3 linked regions of the Homo sapiens genome follow. The protein of the gene in region 1 purifies or fractionates together with the protein of each later gene. This does not show direct contact. Each region holds a gene or a part of one and is shown on either strand. Other genes may lie near its edges.

Evidence for each region.
Region 2: the proteins of PRKAG2 (region 1) and PRKAA2 purify together in Homo sapiens (affinity purification with mass spectrometry; 7 studies listed by BioGRID and IntAct, with this or other methods). This does not show direct contact.
Region 3: the proteins of PRKAG2 (region 1) and PRKAA1 purify together in Homo sapiens (affinity purification with mass spectrometry; 10 studies listed by BioGRID and IntAct, with this or other methods). This does not show direct contact.

Annotation. Positions count from the first base shown.
Region 1 is NC_000007.14:151,873,635-151,882,186, reverse strand, and holds the start of PRKAG2 (5'-AMP-activated protein kinase subunit gamma-2), read left to right. Parts: upstream 1-5,071; 5' UTR 5,072-5,566; coding exon 5,567-5,680; intron 5,681-8,552. UniProt on the Homo sapiens protein: AMP/ATP-binding subunit of AMP-activated protein kinase (AMPK), an energy sensor protein kinase that plays a key role in regulating cellular energy metabolism.
Region 2 is NC_000001.11:56,640,671-56,648,521, forward strand, and holds the start of PRKAA2 (5'-AMP-activated protein kinase catalytic subunit alpha-2), read left to right. Parts: upstream 1-4,643; 5' UTR 4,644-4,717; coding exon 4,718-4,811; intron 4,812-5,082; exon of another isoform or gene 5,083-5,325; intron 5,326-7,851. UniProt on the Homo sapiens protein: Catalytic subunit of AMP-activated protein kinase (AMPK), an energy sensor protein kinase that plays a key role in regulating cellular energy metabolism.
Region 3 is NC_000005.10:40,760,204-40,767,806, forward strand, and holds part of PRKAA1 (5'-AMP-activated protein kinase catalytic subunit alpha-1), read right to left. Parts: intron 7,488-7,603; coding exon 7,263-7,487; intron 5,036-7,262; coding exon 4,549-5,035; intron 4,438-4,548; coding exon 4,311-4,437; intron 4,265-4,310; exon of another isoform or gene 2,820-4,264; coding exon 2,575-2,819; 3' UTR 1-2,574. UniProt on the Homo sapiens protein: Catalytic subunit of AMP-activated protein kinase (AMPK), an energy sensor protein kinase that plays a key role in regulating cellular energy metabolism.

The sequences.
Region 1 (8,552 bases):
CTATACTATATAAAGATGACTCATGGTTTTCAAAGTCATTTTTATTTATATGGAATAACAGGCCAAATTAAAAAAAAAAAAAAGCATGGGTGGGCGTAAGGGAACACGTAAGTTTGGAAAACCAGATTAAGTGAAATTAAATAGCCAGTGTCCCCTTCATAAGCTCTGATCAAGGATTTCCTTTACGTTAACTCTCCTACTGTGGGTATTTCACTTCTCAGCGGGTTGTAGGCCCTGGACCTGGGTGCAGCATTTTAAATTATCACCTCTGAATGAAATGTTGCCTGGCTGGGGAAGAGGTGGCTCACCCTGGCAGGCCAGTGTGTTGACCAGGATCCCTGAGAGCTGACAGCATTCAGAAATGGGTACCCCAAGTATTTGCAGGTGATGTTGGTCTAGGATACTAATATAGTGGGACAGCAACGACACAAACACATGTGTGGTATAAAATGTGCCAATCATATCTGCTCCCCCATTCAATGTGCTAACATGTGTATGAGCCCTTGGCACTGTCACATAATAGAAGCTGCATGTTTTTAACCCTCATGCTCACCAGCCTGGGCCAATGATGCCCCCAACGGGAAGCAGCCTCAGTGATAGGGTTTGGCTGTGTCCCCACCCAAATCTCATCTTGAATTGTAGCTCCCATAATTCCCATGTGTTGTGGGAGGAATCATGGGGGTGGGTCTTTCCCATGCTGTTCTCGTGATAGTGAATAAGTCTCACGAGATCTGATGGTTTTATAAATGGGAGTTCCCCTGCACACTCTCTCTTTCCTGCTGTCATGTAAGACGTGTCTTTCCTTCTCCTTGCTTTTCACCATGATTGTGAGGCCTCCCCAGCCATGTGGAACTGTGAGTCAATTAAACCTCTTTCCTTTATAAATTACCCAGTCTAAGGTATGTCTTTACTAGCAGCATGGGAACAGACTGATACACTCAATATGCCCCTTTCTCCAACAAGCTATCCCAAACCATCTGTAGGAAGGGCCTTGGGTGGTTTTTTAGTTGTTTCTGTTTGTTTTTAATTTCCAACTTACTGTGGAATGATACTTTGTAAAATTCAATAAAAAATAAATTACTAGAGCAATACAATTAACAAAGACATACCAAATACAATCAGGACAAAAATACAAGCTCCCTTAAAGAGGCCACAGAAATATTCTGAAGACCATCCCACTTCTCTTACAGATGGGGAACTAAGGGACCTGCCCCCATTGCATAGCTGGTCAGAGGCAGCTCCTCTGGCTGAAGCAAGCTGGGTGCTTTGGCCTAAGCCCTAGCCCTGACCCCAGCCCCAGATCCAGCCCCAGCCCCTGCCCCGGCTCCAGCCCCAGCCCCAGCCCCAGCCCCAGCTCCAGGCCTGGCCAAGTTCTCCTTCTCATCCTTCTCGGAAGACGAGGGGGAGGTGAATGAGGCATTGGCCTCAGGTGCAAAATTTAAGGGGGTGCCAAAAACTCAGTCACCAAGATAAAGAATATGTAATGCAATATATTTCTAAACATTAGAATTTTACACAAAGACAGGATCAGTAACAGTGCTGAGCCGAGCAATATTGGCACCGGAGGCAAAAGGCAGAATCAGTGACATTGTCAGAGCCTTACTTAAAGTTTTGGCCTTTTGTTCAGCACAGATTTTACTGCATTAATGTTGAGAAGGAGGTCATAGGTAGGGCATAGAGAAAGAGTGAATGTCAGGGGTCATTATATGAACAACGTCGCGTGGGCCCGCGACATTTAGCTCCTGGCTAAAATAACTGTGTGCACACCAACGGGAGGGGAAGACGGGGGTTTTCAGAAAACACCTCAAATCAAAACAATTACTGTGTTCCTTCCACTCTGAGACTCCACCAGTCAGAAGATATGTGATCAATTTGTTAATGTATCTCTAGAAGGAAAAAAATGGCAGGTAAACTTCTTCTGACATCATCTATAAGCAACCCCCATAATTCAGAAATATTCATATATAGAACCCTGAAGGGAAAAATCCCAAATTGTTTTTTCCTCTGCTCTCACGCTACGACAATCATCAACGCGGAAGGTTCGTGTCACCATATGTGTGTGTTGGGGGTTCTCCCCACTGCCAAGCAAGCAATCAGTTCCGCAGGAGACACCAGGGTGTCTTCCAACTCATTTCTGACACTGTCTACCTGGAGATAGTGGCAGATCCCACAGGTTGAGGGCTCAATCCCCAAGGCACCCCACCCCCATCCCACTTCGCACAGCAGTTGCAAGTCCAGGCATCCGGAGCTTCTGACCGACAGGCTGGGCTCTCAATTGGGGTTCCCACAACCCCCTCTCAGGTTCATTAATTTGCTAGAGTGGAACACAGAACTCAGGGAAATGTACATTTACTGGTTTATTATAACGCATATTACCAAGAACACAGATGATGGGATGTACAGGGAGAACAGGCACGGAGTTTCCATGCCCTTCCCAGGCACCCCGTCTTCCAGCAGCCTCCACATGTCCAGGGATCCAGAAGCCCCCAAACCCAGACCTCTTGGGCTTCTTAAGGAGACTTCATTGGACAGACACGATTGACGACCATGCAGAAATGTGATCGAACAAAAAGGTATGATCCAATAGTGACTGAGTAAGTGTGGACACCCAAACAAGTCCTGCCTATTCCGACCGTTATTGGCCTTTCCGTGCAGGATTTCTTCCTCTCGGGAATGGGGCAGGACCCCTTCTGAATAGAGGGTCTTAAGTCCCACAATCAGAAAGATGAGGGAGGATTAGAGTCCTGCCTTGGGCTGGTGAGGTGGTGAAGGAGGGCAGGGGAAGTTCAGAGGAGATTGTTTCCTGGGGTGTCTGAGGCCTAAAGCGCCCCAACATTATAACAAGAGACTGTGATGAGGGCGACGAGAGTGCTAAGCCAGGAACCCTGGACAAAACCCAGAATTTATACCTCGTCATATCACAAGGACCAAAAAAATTAAAAATTAAAAAAAGGCTCTTAAAATGCAGGCAATACAGTAAAATGTTTTAATGTAGGAAGCACTAAAGTCTTTGTTCCAACAAAATTAACTCAGAGAACAAATTATTTTACATATGTATACAGATCAATCAACAAAAGTACACATTATAACAATTGCTAAACACTGTCCATAAAGAAAACATTTCAAATGAGAAGCGCCATCGCGGTTTTCTCCTTCTGGGTCACCCAGTGGAATGAGGGCCCTCGCCAGGGGCTCTTCCCAGACGTCTCTTCACACCAACCGGCTTCCTTCTGATGGCCCCATTTTCCTTTAAAACCAGTTCTCATCAAATAGGGTGTTTTATGCACCCTGGCAAATGATCATTTTGACAAGGATTAAAACTGTAAGCTAAACAGATGACACAAATGACAATTGGGAATAATTTTTAGTGGGGACAGAGGCTAAATACTACCCCCTCCCCTTTTCTACTTCTAACCAATATCTTGAGCATTCAGTGGGACAATACAGTCTTGCTGGGTCTCTTGAAATCCTCTAGCAAGAAGCCAGCCAGGAGAAGACCCAGAAGTCCCACACCTGTGGGGCCAGGATGGCTGCTTGGTTGCTAAACCCAGACAGGGTCCTTCCAGTGCATCTGCCCCTGTCAGGCTCTGTCTCGAGACTGGGGATCTTCCAGGCTGGCTTCATTCTGGACCAGAGAGCAGAGGAGAAGGAGAAAGAATATAAACCCACCCCTATGAGCCAGGGAACCACCCAAGCTGTAAGGATTTTGTGCAAGCTGCTGGAACTCGGGTTGGAAAAGCCACCCGGCAAGCAGCTGAAAGGAAGGATGCTTCTCCCTGCGTGGGCGCACGCCTGCTTCCTAAGAGATGATCCTTTGGGTGGGCTGATCATGCCTCCTCCTCTGGGGAGGGAGTCCTGCGAAAGCACGCACCTCAAAAGGAGTAAAGGCCCTATGGTGTCCCCAAAGCGACCCCTGTCGCGTTCTTTCTGCGGGTGGCCTCCCTGCATTACTGATTACTCGGAGCGGCTGAGCTGACGTCAGCATTCTGGGAGCGCCAATGACCTTTGGGGTCATCACATCCTCAGAAACTAGAGCAGGAGGGGAAGCGACCCCCAAGCCAGCACTCCCCCTACTTTCCACCAGGGAGCCGAGGTCGCGCCATCCTGGGGCGCATCTGGGGGTGGGGGACACACCAGCCCCCTCCCCCAACCCCTCTAGGGCCCTCGGCAGCAGGCGGTACTGGATGCCCACCCGGGGCTCTAAAGGACCTGGGCCGCACCGGGAACCCTCGCCCGGGTCTTCGAGCCCTCCCCTTCTCCCAATTCTTTCCGCAGTCTCAGGAGCCCCACGTTTCCCGCGGCGTGGGGACACGCACTTACCGCGGATCCACTGCGCAAACCTTGATGAACCTGAAAAAAGCAGGGTGGGGTGGGGTGGGGTGAGGGTGGGGGTGGCTAGACCCTGCTCGCACCCAGCGCCACGCACCGCTCTCTGGGCGGGTTCGAGTGCGCGCGCCGGGCGGGGCGGGACCCGGGGGCTGCGGTGTTTCGAGAAGCACGTGCTACTTCGCGCGCAGCGCCCCCGGAGACTGTGGGCTTCCTCGCTGCCTGGTCTACGGCAGGGCGGGCGCGGGGGCGTGTTTCAAAGGGTAGGGCACACAGTGAGACGCCGGGAGGCGGGATGGATCCGAAACCAGCTCGCAGCGAGTCCCAAGCGGCTGCGGCCGCCGCAGGGGTCTGGGCGCGGCGACGAGGGCGGCGTGGGGCGACGGGGAGCGGGACGGTGGCGCTGCACGCCGCGCACTTCCTGTTCAACACGCGCCGCCTCCCACCACCCGCGCTCCCCGAGCTTGCGTCGGTGCCAGGCCCGGCCCCTCACTGTCCCCTTGCGGTCCCCTGGGGCCGCGGCGCGGCGGGGGGCGAGGAGCGGGCGCCCTGCCCTTCTTGGCCCGCTGGACTCCGGGCGCCCCCTCCGGCGCGCAGGGCCGCGAGCGCCGCCGCCAGAACTTCTGCCAGCGGCCGCCCGTAGCCTAATTGCGCAGAGGGCTCGCCTTGCACCTCCTCTTCCCCCGCCGCCCTCCCTCTCGCCCAGAAAGGAGGACGGACCCAGCTGCAGGCTCCGAGCTGGTTTATTCTGCGGCCGAGGATTACATTTATGCACGAACGGGCTTACTGGTTCCAGATTCCCCACTTGGGCACAGGCATAGGAGGCTTGTTTTCCAAATTGCTGGTTTTAATTGCACCTGCCTTTCAGATTACCTCTGGGAATCTGTGGGAGGAGCCGAGAGGGTGGAAAATGTTTCTTAGCTTTGCAAAAGGAAGAAAACTTTGTCACCCAGCGGGAGACCTCAGCCACGAGTAACCCGGGGAGACACCAGAACCGGGACGGGCTTTGACTGATTTGCCTACGAGGGTTCCGTAGGAAAGGACGCTTGAATTCGGCGCTTCGGCGGCGGCGGCGGCCGCGCGAGTTCCCTGCTCACCCTCCCTCTCCGCGGAAGTCCCCACGAGGTGGCTTCAGGGTGTAACAGAGCGCGCGGCTCCAGTCCGAAGGCAGCGGCCGGGGGAGGGAAGGAGGGGACCGAACCCCCGAGGAGTTTCGCAGAATCAACTTCTGGTTAGAGTTATGGGAAGCGCGGTTATGGACACCAAGAAGAAAAAAGATGTTTCCAGCCCCGGCGGGAGCGGCGGCAAGAAAAATGCCAGCCAGAAGAGGCGTTCGCTGCGCGTGCACATTCCGGTGAGTCCCAGCACTCGGTCCCCTGCTCCCCAGCCCTCCTGTCGCTCCCGTCCCCGGCGCCGAAGCGGTTAACGCTGGACGCCCCGCGCGCGCCGTGCGTGCCCCTCCTGTCACTTCGGGCGGCTTGGGGAAAGGGTAGAGGGACAGGGCCCGAGCTGGGCTGGCGGAGCCGGGGCTCAATCTCTCTCTCTGCCCGCGTGCAGCCAGGGCTGGGGCTCCGCCTGGGGCGGGGGCTGGGCGGCTGCAGACTAGAGGGGGCGCCGGGCGCGGCGGGTGGGCGGCTGGGCGTAGCCCGGTATCCAGCCGGGTGCGGGTGCGGGGGGCGGTGCGTTGTGTTGTTTTGCTGAAAAGGGACGGTGTGGACTGCGCTCCGGGGAGGTGGAGCCCGCGCTCGGCTGCTGGAGACGGAGAGAGGGGAGGGGAGGGAGGAGAGGGGAGGGGCGGTGGGTGGGGAAAGCAGCGGGGCGGGGGTTGGGGGGAGCTGTGTAGCTGCGTCTTCCAATGCACCCCCTCCGCTCCAGTTTCTCTCCGGGCGTTTCTGGGCCTGGAGCGGGGGTCTCCTCTGCCGCCGTTCCCTTCCCCCGCCCCGGGAGTGTACTTTGGGTCTCTGTGGTATTTGGGGGCTCGGAGCTCCCTAATCCGTGCAGGCTGCATTGAACTTCAGCCCCGTCCGCGCCAGCCGCCCGGGAGGACATTGGCGACTCGGATCTGCCTGCGGCTTCACTTTGTCCAGCCAGAGGGGCGGCGGGCCGCGTAGTGGTTCTCTTTTCGGAAGGCGCCCCGGTAGCCCGCGGCCACTGTTCCTCGCCTCCACGTAGCGGGGTAGGGCGGTGGGAGGTGTGGCCCACTGGGTCACACCCTCCGCCTCAGCCAACCAAGTAAATGTTTGTGTACACACACACACACACACACACACACACACACACACACACACACACACACACCAGAGTGCTCCGTAGAGAAAGTTATTTTGCTCTCCCGGGGCAGGGTGGGAGTGCGCAGTGAATGGGCTGTCCGGACCCCTCATTAAAGCTAATCCTTCCCGACAGGGTCAGGCGCAGCTGGCATGGCCGAGGCAGGCCACTCACTTCCCACTGTGAATCCCAGGGCGCACTGCCCCGTGTTTGCTGAGCCACCCTTCTTTTAGACGCCCCGCTAAGGTCCTCCTGTGTAAACTCCGGCCCACACGTGCCTAACGCTTGGGTGAAGAGGGTGGAGTCCAGGGGCGGGTCTCCAGACACCTGATGCCAAGTAGCCCCACAGGGGCCCTGGGCCAGCCCTCCCTGGCTGGAAAGCTCTGGGGCTGGAAACTTGGACCCCTGGCTGCTGTGTGGCCCCCACGGTGGTGACTCGATTATGCAGGAATAAGTGTTCTATTTGAAAATGAAACATTCTTGTTTACATCTCTCATGTAAGACATTTAAAACCATGTTCGTGAGTTAAAAGTTAGATGTTGCTGCCACAAACCTCTTAAACAGTGATCACTTGAGCTAACCGTGTAACTACTGTTTCTCCCATTTGTCAAATGCAGGAAATAATACCCATTTTTCCTGCTTTATACGGATATTGAAATAAAGTAATTCATGGGAAAACTCTTTTTTATTGTTTTTTTTGTTTTGAGTCAGGGTGTCACTCTGCTCCCCAGGTGGGAATGCAGTGGTGCAATCATGGCTCACTGCAGCCTCAACCTCCCCAGGCTCAAGTGATCCTCCCACCTCAGCCTCCTGAGTAACTGGGACTACAGGCATGTGCCACCACACCCATCTAATTTATTTATTTTTTTTGTAGACATGAGGTTTTACCATGTTGCCCAAAGCTGGTCCACATGAGCTGGGCTCGAGTGACCCGCCCACCTTGACCTCTCAAAGTGCTGGGATTACAGGCGTGAGCCATCACACCCATCCCGGGAAAACTCTTGACAAGTGTAAAGTGTCCTATAAATGTATGGCTTATACATATACATATACATATACATATACATCATATACATATACATATACATCATATACATATACATCATATACATATACATCATATACATATACATATACATCATATACATATACATATACATCATATACATATACATATACATCATATACATATACATATACATCATATACATATACATCATATACATATACATATACATCATATACATATACATATACATCATATACATATACATCATATACATATACATATACATCATATACATATACATATATATCATATACATATACATATACATCATATACATATACATATACATCATATACATATACATCATATACATATACATATACATCATATACATATACATATACATATACATCATATACATATACATCATATACATATACATATATACATATACATCATATACATATACATATACATCATATACATATACATCATATACATATACATATACATCATATACATATACATATACATACATATACATCATATACATATACATCATATACATATACTTATACATATACATCATATACATATACATATACATCATATACATATACATATACATCAGACACCTAGTTTTTTAAAAAAATATATAGAGAGAAACAAGAACATGCCATTGTCCAGTGGTTGGGCCATTTTGTGTGGCAGCCACATGCTGAGGCTGGTTCCAAATGCAGGGTGTGAGTGATGTGTGGGCGTGCCCGTGGGGTGGTGCCAGCGATAGTGTGAGACAAAATCCAGAACCAGAAAAAGGACTGTGAGGCCAGGCCGTGAACGTTGAAAAACCATGTTATAGTTGGGGTCCTCGGACCACCCTTCTTGCTGCCAGTGGTGACTTTGGCAGCTTTTCATAACGTTCTTGGCATGAGCCAGCCCACCGCGAAAG
Region 2 (7,851 bases), on another chromosome or scaffold:
TAAAAGAGATGTATTGACAAAATGGTAAGTGTGACTTTTTTGATCCTGATGAGCATAAACCAACTGTAAAACTACATTCCTGAGACAATCAAGGGATATTCACCACAGAGTGGGTATTTCATAACAGTAAGGAATTAGTGCTAATTTTGTTAGATATGTTAGTAGTAGTATGGTTGTGTTAAAAAGAAGTGCTTATCTGTTAGACCTATATACTGAAGTATTTGCCAGTGAAATAATCTGCTTATTTACTTTAACATACTCCTGAAAATAAATTTTAAAAGTGCAGAGATAGATGGGTAAATGATGACAATTGTTGATCATCACAGATGCTAAGGTTATTTATGTTACTCTACTTTTGTGTATGTTTGAAGTTTTTCACACAAAATTTTAAAAATGTAATTATTGAGCTTGTACTTCCTATAAAATACCATAAACATCCTTTATTATTCATTGAGTGTCCAAATTTTTTATTTTAAATTGGAGACAGCCATAGAAGCCCTATATCATGAATCTATAGACTTCAAAGGTGCTAACTCATGCCTCTCTAACCTCACTAATGACTGCTGTGCTGAGATGTAAAATTATGCTTTGCCTTTAATATGTGTATACATAAAATAAAACTGCACTCTTCCCTGTATTGTTGTTACTTGATTCTCTAGCTTAGTAACTAACCCTTTCTAAAATTCAATTTAGCAAATATTTTTGGAATGATATACCAGGTTCCACTAGGCCCCAGAAACAGCAAGTGGGGTATGAACATATCATTTGCATATATAATATGTAAATATAAATACATATATGTATCTATCTATATGTATGTATAATGTATATGATAATAGAATTGATAAATTCTATATTAGCTATATTAAACATGTACAATGGAAAACCTAAAAAGAAACATGTGATGAAAAACTTAATGAATCATGCTTAATGTCAGAATTATCTTTCTATTCTATTTAAAAATTTACAAAATATAAAGAGGTAATCAAAGAGTATACAGCCAGAAAATGTAGAAAACAGGTATTATAGAGGTATGTTAGATAATTAATTTATAAAAATATTGTTATTTGTCTGGATTTGGGGATGTTTGTGGCATTTGTCAGCTTTTATAAATTTGTAGAGAGTTGTTTTTCACTTCAAATTCTCACTTTCATACCCAATTTTGCATTTTTTTTTTCCCTTAAAGAGATTCCCCCACACTGAATAAACTTCAGGTGCCACATTCTGAATCTGCTTGGATATCTATATTTTGTCAGGCATTGTCCCGGGAGCTAAGGATACATCAGTGAACAAAATAGAGAAAAAAGGCCTCTCTTCTTTTGTGAAGTTTAGATTCTAATTGGGAGAAACAGACAAAAATATAATAAGCACATAAATTAAATAGTATGTTACATGGCTAGTGCTATGTAAAAAAGTTGAGGAGGGTCAGGGGATGAGAGTGCAGGGCAGAGAGCATGAGTGAGATAAAACTGCAATTTAGGCCTGGTGCGGTGGCTCACGCCCATAATCTCAGTACTTTGAGAGGCTGAGGCAGGACAATCACTTGAGTCCAGGAGTTTGAGACCAGCCTGGGTAACATGGCGAGACCCTGCTTCTAAAAAAAAAAAAAAAAAAAAAAAAAAATTTAAAAAAAATTACAAAAAAAAAAAAAAAAAAGAAACTGCAACTTAAATAGGGTGGCCAGGGTAGGGTTCACCAAGAAGGTGACTGTGAGCAAAGACTTGAAATAATTGGTTACTGATAATACCAATGGTGTCTAGTACAGTATATTAGTTTAGTGGTCTTGCATTAATGTCCTACTCAGGACTTATTTTAGAATATTTGAAGGTAAAACAACCCCAAAGTTTCAGAAGCAGGAGGGTAAAGCAGCAATAGTTGGACCAGCGCTAAGAACTGAACACCTCCCTGGGGCACTGGTCTTAGAGATTGGTACTAAACAATAGCGGCGTGAAACCTTCATTGGAAGATAATAAAATGGGAACATTGCATTTACCAGGTCATCTTTAGGGGTGAGACCTCCAAGAGGCATGACCCTTAAGGAGATCTACTCTGATTAACTGTCGAGTTTTCTACTGCTGAATAGGAAGAGGCAAATATGGAACCTTATCTTGAAGTGTCCAGGACAACAGAGGGCTGAGTACTGCCACCAAGAGTTGTCCTTCTTACCCACTTACCATTCAACCTTTCCTCTAAATAAAAGTCAGAAAAACAACAAAAAGTAGTTTAAATACTTACAAATTTATAGGATATATTATTGGACTGCCCAAGAAATAATAAAAATATGAAAATGGAACCACAACTGTGACAATTTTTAACTTTCTTAGAGCACCATACTTTCTTTTGGCATAGGCAGCTGCGGTATAGTAGGCAGACTGAAGGACAAGTCAGAACTGGATATGAGTTCTGACTCTGCCACTTTTTAGCCCTGGGCAAATCAGAAAGGGAAAAACTAAGTTTTATCATCTATAAAATGGGAATAATAATCTTTCTTTTATGACAATTAAATAATTGTGTTTAAATGAACTTCTTAATCAACAAAGTATCATAGATGTTTCACATAGTAACAAAACTATAAGGTAGTCCACAGTAGCTATGTAAGAATCATAGTTATGAAGTATATAATAATTTAACTTACAGTATTTATCAACAAATAGTTAAGACAGTACGAAATGCTTTGAAATCTCAATTTACAGTTAGTCTTTATGTAGCTTCAAGAAAGCAATCATCTAACTTCAAGTGAAGACTTTTCAACATCTTTTAACGGGATATTAGAGCAGAAGACATATACATCTCATACCTCAAAAGCAGAATAGGTCTTTTCTTACTCACTTGACTACTGAAGGAATGACCCTTAACCAGATGAAAGTTCAGCACAAAAATAACTGGCTATTTTCTCAAAATTGCCAGCGAGGTAGAGTGATTCCTAGATGATACTTGTCAGCAAGAAAGATGATCTGAAGAATGAACAAAAATAGCCTCTGTTTAACAGCTGTGATATCTATAATTTATAAGCTGTGATCATCTCTCATCAGATTGTCTTGATGTTTGGATGAGAATGAATGTTTGAAATTTCTATATTTAGTACTTATCAGAAAACAAAGTTTTGTTGTGTCCTATTCTTTTTGATCAATACATTTCAATTTACATATAAACAGTGTTCAAGAGACTTCATGTTTGAGGAATGTGACCTTGAAACTCTACTGGCATGCAGTGCTATAAATGTTTGACTAATCCTTAATTACTTATCCCCAAACAGAATTTTTTTTTACTGTTTTAAAATTTTTTATTTCATTGGCAAATAAAAATTGTATATATTTAGTATGTATATGTTTTGAAATATATTGATTGTGGAATGGCTATAAGTCAAGCTAATTAACAAACATATTGTATACGAATCTTTTTGTGTGTGTGGTGAGAAGCAAATAAACTTTAATCACTGAAAGACAGAACAACATTAAAGAATGAGACAACATTAAAGGAAGGAAGGAAGGAGGGAAGGAAGGGCGGGAGAGAAGGAAGAGAGGCAGAGATAATCGCTTTATTACCTAATTCTTTGCCAGTCTTTTTTCTTTTTTTTTGTGGGGGAGGGTGGGGAGGTCAGTCTTTGAACACGCTGCCTAGGCATCATGCTTCTAATTTCCTCTTACCACTCTTTTCACTTCTATATCACATTTATTCTTCCTTTAATATGTGACCTTATACTGGCCTCGCCCTTCACAATTCCTCTGTCGCTTACGTATTTTACTTTCTGTGGGCAGAACATTGTTTCCCTTTCCACGTCTTTCCCATTTCCTTCTTGTACAGCTGTATCACATTTCGGTACTATATGTTTATATAAGCGCGTGGTAAAACTACATATTTATATAAGCATGTGCTAAAAAACACTCGAGCAAATACCGTGACTGAGATTTTTTGGAAAACTGTGGGCAAATTAGTTAAAATTGAGAGCTCTGGCGGAGAGGGTCTCTTCCATCTATAGGACAAAATAATTGGGAATTACAGAATAAGTAGAGGAGGACAATTCAAGAGAGCACAGAGCTGCGTGCATTCTCCCTGTGCCGCGACCTGTATCCAAAAGCCTCAGACGAGACTTGAGGAGCTTCCTAGAGGCTCTCCTGCCACTGCCCCTTTGGCCAGGGCCCTTCCCGCAGTCTCCCCTCCCGATTCTTCCCTTTTACAGCCCCTCGCTCCCGACATGCGAGGCCCGTCTCTTCTTCCAGTTTGACTTCCAAGTCTTTCCATTCCCTAGGATCGGGCCCCAGTCTCACCCCCTATTTTCACCCCCTTCGGTTTTCCTCAGAAAGGGCCTCCTGCCTCCCTCGGCACCCTCGCCTACCCCCCTCGCAGCACCTGTCGCCTCCGCCCCTCACTCGGACCCCGCGCATCTGGCGCAGCCCCTCCCGCACTCCCGCCCAGCGCCCCGCGTCCCCGGCCCCCGCTGTCGCTGCTTCGGGTTCCGCCGCAGGAGCCTCTCACTCCCGGGAGCGGGCGCCTCGCGCTCCCTCCCTCGGCCCCGCCCCGCCCGCCGCTCGCCCGTTGCTTCCCACCTGGGCCCGAAGCGCCCAGCGCCCTCTCCCGGGACCCCGCGCCCGCCCCGCGCCCCTCGCGGCTCGGGGTCCGCCCCCTCGCCCGCAGGGCCCGCTGCACTGTGGGTAGGCGGCGGCGGCGGCGGCTACGCGGAGCGGCAGGCGGTGGAGCGAGGCCGCGCGCGCCGAAGATGGCTGAGAAGCAGAAGCACGACGGGCGGGTGAAGATCGGACACTACGTGCTGGGCGACACGCTGGGCGTCGGCACCTTCGGCAAAGTGAAGAGTTGAGTACGCGCTCCGGACCGCTGTGCGGGGCTGCCTGACTTGCGGGAGGCCGAGGGGAGAGGCGGGAGCCCCGGGCCTCCGGCGGGCGCGGGGCTCGGCGGCAGGTGGAGCGGTCCCGGGTCGCGCGGAGCTGGGGCCCCGGGAGGGTGGCGCGCACCGCCTCGCCTGGCACCGGCGCCCGGGCCCCACAGGGTCCAGGGAAGAGGGCGGGGGTGTGAGCTGAGGATGGGCGTCCTGGGTTCCAGGTTCCGCGCCCATCTGCCTTTCTGGAGGTCGGAGCAAGGCACTTCTGTGTTCTCTGGACCTCAGTGTCCTCCTCTGCAAAATCGGGAGAACTGGACTCGTTCTGCGAGGCGCCTTCCAGCTCTGAGCCTGTAGGCTTAGGGCGGGGATCATCCACGCTACTGAGGACTGAGGCGCCGTTTCGTGCCGGGTGCCCTGTTAGGTGCTTTACATGGAATCTCATTGAATCCTCACAGTGACTTGGTCAACATGTTGTCCTCACCCTAAAGGTGAGAAAACTAGGACCCCTAGAGATGTAGTAACAAGCCCAAGGTCACACAGAAATGGTCAGTACCAGAGTGAAGTCTAAGATGTCCTCCAATTCTGGTCTTGCTGGGAGGTCCCTGCCATCCCCAGATTCCTTCACGTTCCAGGACTCTCGGTTGTTGGGGGTGACTGTTTGGGGGATGCTCCAGGGGCCAGAGGTTGTGAGTCTTTCTTCCTGGGGTGTTGTTTAACGCTGGAATGCAGCTGGATTGGGTCAGAGGTTAATTAAAACAGAGAGGTCTGAAGGTGTTTGTGTTTGTAAAATGGCTATGGGAAGACTTCTAGGGTAAGGGAGAGAAAAAGTTTCCTTGGTGTTTGGAGGATTTGAGGCTGAGGAGGTCAGGACTGCTAAGGCATATTCTGCTAAGGTCTGTCTTCATGGAGATAGGATCCCCTTTTGAATGTAGAAAAACAGGCTGCTTTTGAAATGTTATACTTTATTCGAGTTAAGTAACTAGTAAGAATAGTTAAGTATGGAACTTTCATTTGTTTTCTTTTTTGTTAATTAGTCACATGTGATTTAATTAACCTGCCTTCTCTCCAGAATAGAGACAGTTGTTTATTAAAAATACTTTGTTGCAAATCCAGAATTATAAGTGAAATATTGACCTTTATTTTTTCTCTTTGCTGAAGAAATGCTGGGTAGGCAGTCTGGAAATTTTATTCTGAGGTCTCTATTTCCTTGTAAAATTCATATTTTAACCCCAAGTCAAGGCTGTTGAATGAGTAGAAGAGACTCATTTTTCATTCCTTTGGTAAGAATCAGCTCCTGTTTTCTTGCACATATTTAATACTCATTCATGTGTTCAAAAAACGCTGAGCACCTGCAACGTGGTAGGCACTGTTCTAGGCAATGAGGATACAGCAAGGAAAAAACAGATCTTTTTGTTTAGCTTTCTAGTAGGAGAAGGCAGACAGTAATCAGAATATATATGTAAAAGGTATGTTTAATTTTATTGAGAAAAACGAATCAGGGAAGGGAAGATAGAGAGTCTTGTGAGGTTGGCAGTTTTCAATAAGGTGGTCAGACAAGGTGGTATTTTTGCAAAGACCTAAAAAGTTTGTAAAATTCTTTGCTGTCCTGTGAGGGTTATAAAGTCCTGGGTTATTTTTGAAAGACCTTATAAGTAGAGTGGATAGTTAGAATGTATTTAAGATGAATACAGGACAATCCAGGGATTGGATTAATGCCTGTAATGTTACTTGTCATTTAGTATTATTATTAAGGACTATTGTGTTACAACATTATACAGTTGCTCAAGCAAACAGCGCCTTTGACATTTGGACATGTACACACAAAGTTATATAACTTAACCCTATGTCCTTTCATATTGTGTTAAAAGTTTTTGCTTGTCTTTTTAAGTTCATATACTGTAATCTGAATGTAGAGTAGAATACTCATCAGATCAATCAGTCCATTGCCAAAGACAACTTAAATCTCTTGTATGTACTTTTGAATTGTTTCCAGGCACTGGCTTCTTAAAATATAAACAGAAAGAACTTTGATTTATGAGAAATTCTTTTCCTGGAGAACCTCTGTCCAATGAACAACCAGTTGAAGGAGTTTTCCTAACACTGTGTTAGATCCTCTCAAAAGTGATACCATGGTTTCCTATCCAAGATTAGGATTAGTACAATTGTTACTCATATAATTCTTCAAGGGACAAGCGAAACAAAAAGTCATGTTTTTTTTTTTTGTTAGAAAACAGCTTTATGGTTGGGCACTGTGGCTCACACCTGTAATCCCAGCACTTTGGGAGGCTGAGGCGGGCGGTTCAATTGAGGTCAGGAGTTTGAGACCAGCCTGGCCAACATGGCGAAACCCCATGTCTACTAAAAATACAAAAATTAGCCAGGCGTGGTGGTAGGCGCCTGTAATCCCAGCTACTGAGGAGTCTGAGGCAGGAGAATCACTTGGACCCGAGAGGCAGAGGTTGCAGTGAGCCAAGATTGCATCACTGCACTCCAGCTTGGGCGGCAGAGCAAGACTCCATCTCAAAAAAAAAAAAAGAAAAGAAAAGAAAACAACTTATTTAGGTATATTTTATATATGAAATTCATCCATTCTAAGTGTACAATTCAGTGATTTTTACTAATTTTGCCAAATGTTGCAACCATCATTATAGATAGGTTTTAGGACATTTGAGGACACCACAGTAAGATTCTTTATACCCATTCACAGTTAATCTCATTTCTACCCTCAGTCCCAGGAAATCACTAATCTGTTTTCTGCCTGTATAAATTTGCTTTTTCTAGGCTCTTCTTCATAAACGTGATCGTTCAATATGTCATCTTTTGTGTCGAGCTTCTTTAACAATGCTTTTGAGATTCATGCATGACATAGCATGTGCCATTAATTTGTTCCTTTTTATAGTTGAATAATATTCCATTGTGTGGATATGCCACATTTTGTCTATACAAAACCAGTTGATGGTCATGGTTTCAAGTTTTGGGCTATTATAAATAATGGCACTACGAATATTCACATG
Region 3 (7,603 bases), on another chromosome or scaffold:
CACACTTAACCAAAGGTTGTCATTTCAAATATCCTAGCTTAAAAAAGAATTTACTGCAATTGTCTGTGCATTTATCATACTATTTATAGAAGTGCAATATTTAAATATTTTCAAAATAAAACACAGTAACTAAAATGAATCACAATAACTTATAAGAGAAGCAAAGTTTACAAAATTAACAATTTTTAAAAGGTCCTATTTAATTGGTTCCTCCTTTTCTTCCCCCCTCCCCACAACAGCGTATATAGCGCCATTACTTAATTCCATATACAAATTTGTAACTTTAAAAATACAGTCTTCTGTTAACATCAGGAACATTATGCTGCACTTAGAGACCCTAAGTAAAATTAGAATCCCCTAAAGAGAGGGCCACATAAAAAGTAAATACAGTTTTGAACTCATATTTAAATGGAACTTCTATTACTTTGTACAGCTTTCAAATTAGAAGTTGAATAGAACAAGCCCTGGACAAAAAGCAGCAAGATTTTTCTTTTGAATTCAGTGCATGATTCTAGAAGTGCTTGAGTCAAATCTACTAGAGTCACCATTTATGCAAGCTATCATGACATTTGAGTTCATTATCATCTGGTTACATAAGTGCTCACTGTATTTGCCAAAAATAATCCTAAAATATGATTCTTAAAATAGAAAAAATATAGCTCTGTTGCAATGGGAAAATGATTAATACAAAAAAATCAATTTCTTAAAGTTAACATAAGGCAAATATAAATGATACAATATTATCATACACGATACCAATTTTATCTGAGGTGACTACATCTTCATTTACATCTATTGTGTGATGCAATTAAGAATGACAAAAAAAAATATCAGTGTAAATCAGAAATCTTAGGAAAATCCAGTATCTTTAAAAAGTAATTTAAGCCCAAAACAAATGTGACCACTTATTAATAGAATTGATTTGTTCCATATTTTATCAAAATAATAATAATGTTATATCCAACTAAAGAGTTATAACCAAGTGTCATATGTAAACTTTAATTGGATCCTAGTTTGAAATAATCAGCTATAAAGAAATTTGGAGTTAACTTCAGAAATTTAAATATGGCTTGATTAGATGATATTGGGGAATTATTACTTTTACAATGGTATTACGGATTTTTAGGAGAATGTCATTATCTGTAGGAGATACTTGAAGTATTTTCACGGTGATAAGTATGTCTGTAACATCCAAATGGTTCAGGGGGAAAAAAGCATATATACATACACAAACAAACACATATATGCATATATATGCATAACTAGCTGTATCTATACATATATAGGTATAGAGAAAACAAATGACAAAACATTAACAACTGCTGAATCTAAATGGTAGATATACATGTGCTTACCAAACAGTTTTTCAATTTTTCTGTTTTTAAAAATGTTCATAATAAAATTTGGGGGGGAAGTCATATCAGAGCACTTAAAGTTTGTAAGAGATAGTTTTCTATGCACTGAATCAATTTAAAAGATACATAATCAAATAAGTAGCAATGTGTGCATATACTCAATAATGACTGACATGATGGGCCAGAGGAATTTGTGAAATTGGCAAAAATAATATGATTTATCTACAGTATATGCAACTCAGCTCTTGTAACAAAAAGAACATTTTGTGTACAGAATATCGTGGGAATATTTTAAGACTAAAATTAGTGCTAGAGTATCTGAATATATAAATTCTGTGTTTTTGGACTTGTAAAGCTAAAATGAAATTTAAATTAGGTCTGATATCTGATATGACTTACCATACACTACAGAATTTTAAAAGGGGGATATGGAGGCCGGGTGCGGTGGCTCACGCCTGTAATCCCACCACTTTGGGAAGCTGAGGTGGTGGATCACGCGGTCAGGAGTTCGAGACCAGCCTGGGCAACATAGTGAAACCCCGTCTACACTAAAAATACGAAAAATTAGCCGGGTGTGGTGGCACACGCCTGTAGTTCCAGCTACTCAGGAAGCTGAGGCGGGAGAATCACTTGAACCCGGGAGGTGGAGGTTGCAGTGAGCCGAGACCACACCATTGCACTCCAGCCTGGGTGACAAAGTGACACTGTCTCAAAAAAACAAAGAGGGAGGGATATGGAAGAAGTTATCCAGACTGTTACTACTGCTGGAAGATACTAGCTATTTATGAAGTTAAGGAGCCCAGAAAACAAAATCACCTATAAAGGTCTTGGGAATTCTAGGCAAATATTTATTGAATAAATTTATAACACGTAATATATAACACGTAATAATATATGAAGGCCTTTATGTAAATTAATATTTCAAAGCCCTGTGTACACTAAATATAAAATAGCCAAAAATCAAGTAAGCCTGAGACCTATAATTCACTGTGTATATTATGCTATATACATACTGCACAATGAACAACAAAATGATCTTAATTCATTTCTGCATATTAGGCTTTTAACTATAAATCATGTTCCAATCCCTGTGCAAATTGCATTCCAAAACGCCAGCCCTCGGTTATAATTATGTATAACTTGATTACAAATGGAAGCATTTGGCTGTGACTTATTATGCATGCTTATTGCTGCAAAAGAAATAAGCAAAGTTTTCTGTTTATTGTGCAAGAATTTTAATTAGATTTGCACACATCTCAAAAAATTCTATTGTGTGACTTCCAGGTCTTGGAGTTAGGTCAACAGGAGAAGAGTCAAGTGAGGTCACAGATGAGGTAAGAGAAACTTCTGAGGATTTTCCTTGAGCCTCAGCATCTGAATCACTCCTTTGGCAAGATCGATAGTTGCTAACTGATCCCGATCTCTGTGGAGTAGCAGTCCCTGATTTGGCTTCTGTAATTTCATCTGGGTAAAAAGAATTTCAATTTATTATAGTCTATGACCTTCTCCCAAAAATTTTTGTAACAGTATTGAATTTGCTTCTTTAAGTGGGGCTGCTGGCCAGCTATCAAGAGCACGCTTATTCTAAATACCTTCTAAAACAGTCAATGAGCCTGTATTAAACTATTCATCTTTTTTACATATAGTATGTATTCTCAAGATAGCTAACCAAAGTTGGGTACAGTATAGCTACTCATCAGTTGCAATCCAAGGTTAAGAGCCCAGTAAACCAACAATCTAGGGATTAATAAATATTATTCTATAGCAATAAAAAGTAATCCCTCTATATTAAAATCATAGAATCGATGCACTTAAAATTTGGAGGGTATACTGGAAACCATCTCATCCAGCCCCTCACTTTATTGATAAGAAAACAAACCCAGAGAAATGACTTGCCCAAGGTAACAAATGAACAGAAAGGTAAGTCTAGAACCCAACTCTCCTAAGTCTCAGCTCAGTGCTTTTTACTTTCCACTTTCCCTTCATATTTCATTTAGTATTTCATAAAAGAGCAACAATTCCAATGAATAAAAATCGAAGAAAAACTAAGGTTGGGAACACAGTACAAAAACAAAATGGGCATTCAATTGGTATACCCCAGTACTAGTAAATCTAAGGTTGCAAATTTGATCCAAATACAAGAAAAATAAAACTCATTCCGTATTTCAGACTGCATTAGTATATGTTAGCAGATACGTACTATATGGACCTAAAGATAACCAGACAAACTGGTTTGGCCAACATATCATGGCTCAAACCTGTGTCTTTCTGCTACTATGTGTGTACTATCTTTGAGTTTATAAAGAAGAAAAAAATTCAAACGTGAACCTCATCTAATAATTCTATGCAACCTTCCATAAGCAAAGGTGATACTATATATATATATTTTAATATTTTGTAAAGACAGAGTCTCAGTATGTTGCTAAGGCTGGTCTCAAATTCCTGGGCTCAAGCCATCCTCCCACCTCAGCCTCCCAAAGTGCTGGGCTGTTTACAGGCATAAGCCACCACACCTGCACTCAACAGCGTAGCTTAATGCAATTGAATTGGCCAATGAAGAATTGCCATAACTTCATTCTTAACTGAAAACTTATTTAATAATAAATAAAAGCTTACAGAAGAGTCAATATTTATTTCTAAATAAAACATTGTCTCTTATCAAAATGAACTACACCAAAAAAACAAATGCAGCAGAAAACTATCACCTTAGGATCAGACTACACCTGGCTTTAAGGATTTTACAAGATGATAATCTTAAAAGGACAATATGCTATAAGATTACAAGAAAAATAAGATTCATAAATGTTAATATTGCAAAGGCACAAGAAATCACATTTTTTATTCCTTTGCAGTTGAATTACTAGGAACAAGTCAAGAAGCCTCAAAAGAATCAAGGCGTAAAATACCAAGTTAGTAACAAGGTCTAATCTATGTTGTTTTGTGTGATGTACATACCATCAATACTACGGAAATCCAGTAGATAAGTTCTACTATCCACTTGGTATAACTGTAGACTCATTTTGGAGTAAGTGCTTGTCACAGGATTCTTCCTTCGTACACGCAAATAATATGGGTTTACAACCTAGCACATGGTATAACAAAAACCAAGTCAAAAGTAATTCTTCTATAAAACATTTTATAGACTATGGGTTTGCCAAATATGCTAATAATCAAAATGTTATTTCTTTCTTACCTTCCATTCATAATCCAATTGTTTGATTGCTCTACATACTTCTGCCATAATATCATTTGGTCGACTTTGACTTCTAATTCCTAAATGCCATTTTGCTTTCCTTACACCTTGGTGTTTGGATTTCTGTGGATTTAATTCATCAAGGGTATGGCGTGCCCTTGGTGTTTCAGCAACCAAGAATGGTACTCTTTCAGGATGGGGCCGAGTCAGGTGATGATCATCAAGAAAAGAATCAGGTGGGCTTGTCGCCAAATAGAAATCTTTGGCTTCATTCATTATTCTCCTGTTATCTATTATGAGATGGTAGGCAACTGCCAAAGGATCCTGGTGATTTCTGTTGTAAAGACAGCTGAGAACTTCCTCTTCTGAGCACTCAAACTTTTCACATACTTCTTTTAAGGCTTCATCATCAATCATGGTTGAACTATATGATGGATCCTCAGGAAAGAGATATTTTGGAAGGTCCTGTTTAAACCATTCATGTTCCCTGAGAGAAAAATGGCAGGATCAGGAGAAGGACTTTGAATAGAGCTGAGACTGAAAGTAACAGTTTAGGGAATTTAGAATATGACTTAATTTATATTTATATTCATACTGTATTATTGTCACTTTTTGCACTGAAATTTTCCTCTTCTAGCTCGCACTTCATTGTGTATGTTGAGGGAAATGCTCCAATTTCCCTCCAGTTTTAAGAGGGAGAATGTATTGACACAGCAATGGGGGGAAAAAAGTTATGGGACAAATGACAGCGACAAACAATGAAAAGAACAGCTTATTTCCAGCTTAGAAAGAGAACATATTAGGTAGCTTCATTATAATACTCTTTTGATATAATGTTAAGTGAAGATAATGTAACAACAAGAAAAATAGTAGACAACTACTGAGTACTTACTATATGCTAAGTTTTATGCTAAACACTTCATATACACTATCTCCCCTCATCATCGAAACAATTATATGAAGATAATATCTCTTTGTTTTAAATGAAGGAATTGAGGTTAAAAAAAAAATCAAGGAACATGCTCAAGGTCACAAAGACAGTAAGTGACAGAACCAGGATTATGACCCAGTTCTGTGTGACTGGAAAGGCCATGCCCTGAATGATTTCCTATTCTAATTCCCTAACTTCGTATATTTAAGAATATGTTTGACCTGAACTATGTCACTTTGCTAAAACTAAATAAAATCCAGAGACGAAAAAAAAAACAAGAAAAGAACAATGGTTATCTTCTGGGTCATGGGATTAAAGATAATTTTTTATTCTCTTCTCTATTGTTGGTGTTTTTCTAAGTTTTTTCAATTGTCATGTATTATATTTTAATTGGAAGAAAATAGGTAAAATACAAACAAAAACATTTCTTACCTAGATATCTTAAAATATAAATTTTAGAGAATGATTTGTCCTTTCCCTTTGGTGATAAAATCATGCCGTGCCATTCATGGTCTCTTTTTTAGCTAGTCTAAAACGTGTAGTAAGTGGAAAGTAATCAAGCTTCAAGTTCCACATATAATCTTTCCTTCTTCTTCATTATACTAATGCTTTCATATTTACTATTCCTAGATCCATATCTGATTTCTTTCTTCCTTCTCAGATAAATGTGCAGTCTAGCCATTAGAAGACCAAAAGGACCAAAATTTCCACAGGGGGGAAAAAAAAGAAACAAGGCTTGCAATAAAATTGTTTAAGTCTTCATCAGAAATGGCTCACTCTAATTTGAGAAGAAAATTTGTCATCGTCATTTTTGTCTAATTTAAACTATTAGGTTGAACCAGATGAAACTGGTTATACTGACTTTTACCTACAAAACAGGAATTTTGCATGTAATTCAATGTATACTACCAGGAAAAACATGTCAATTAAATCTCATTCCTTGGGATTAAAAAAAGAAAAAAAATACAATAATTCATGAGATAAGAAATAAAATAGCCACCCACAAATTTACTACTGAAAAGTATTAATCCTAACGCCAGGCATACTGGCTCACACCTGTAATCCCAACACTGGGAGGGAAAGGCACAAGGATCACTTGAGGCCAGGAGTTCAAGACCAGCCTGGGCAAAAATAGCAAGACCTGTCACTACAAACAAAAACAAAAAGCAAAACAATAACAACAAAAAACAGCCAGGCATGATGGTGGATGCCTGTAGTCTCAACTACTAGGGAGGCTAAAGTGGGAGGATCACTTGACCCAGGAGTTACTGGCTACAGTGAGCTATGATCACACCACTGCACTCCAGGCTGGGTGACAGAGCAAAACCTTGTCTCAAAAAAAATAAATAAATAAAAATAAAAGATATACATATATATGGGGCCTCGCTATGTTACCCAGGCTGGTCTCAAACTCCTGAGCTCACATGATCCTCTTTCCTCAGCTTCCCAAAGTGCTGGAATTACAGGTGTGAGCCACAGCACCAATCTTTCATTAGCTTTTTTGTTAATTTAAAAAGTAATATGATGTTCACTGTAAAAATTTCAAAACAAAGATGTGTAAGTAAAAAGTGAAAGCCCTCCCTCTTACGAATCTTACTTCCCTAAGGTAACCAGTTTACTATGTATTTCTAATAACAAAATAAAATAAATGTGTCTATACACTCTATTTTTTTCACATAAAAACAGGATTACACTGTATATTCTGTTCTGCAACTTTTTTTTTTTCACATAACTTTTATCATGGATACTATCAGATCTGATAACTTCCAAACTGCTTTATTACCTGATATCTTTGATTGTGGCCCTCTTCATGGGATCCACCTGCAGCATATGTTTCAAAAGGCTAATCACAGAAGGATTTAAATATTGAGGGGTATAGAAGATCCCATCACATATCTTCTTAAAAAGAGTTGGCACATGGTCATCATCAAATGGAAGGGTTCCACATAATAAAGCATAGAGAATAACCCCACTGCTCCATATATCTACCTCTGGGCCTGCATACAATCTGTAACAGGAAATAACAATTGGATTAAAGAATCATTTTAACCTAAGATTCAGTTCATCAAAAACTTCAAATATGGATATTTCATAAAGAATTCTTAAGCAGAATATGGTTTTTAT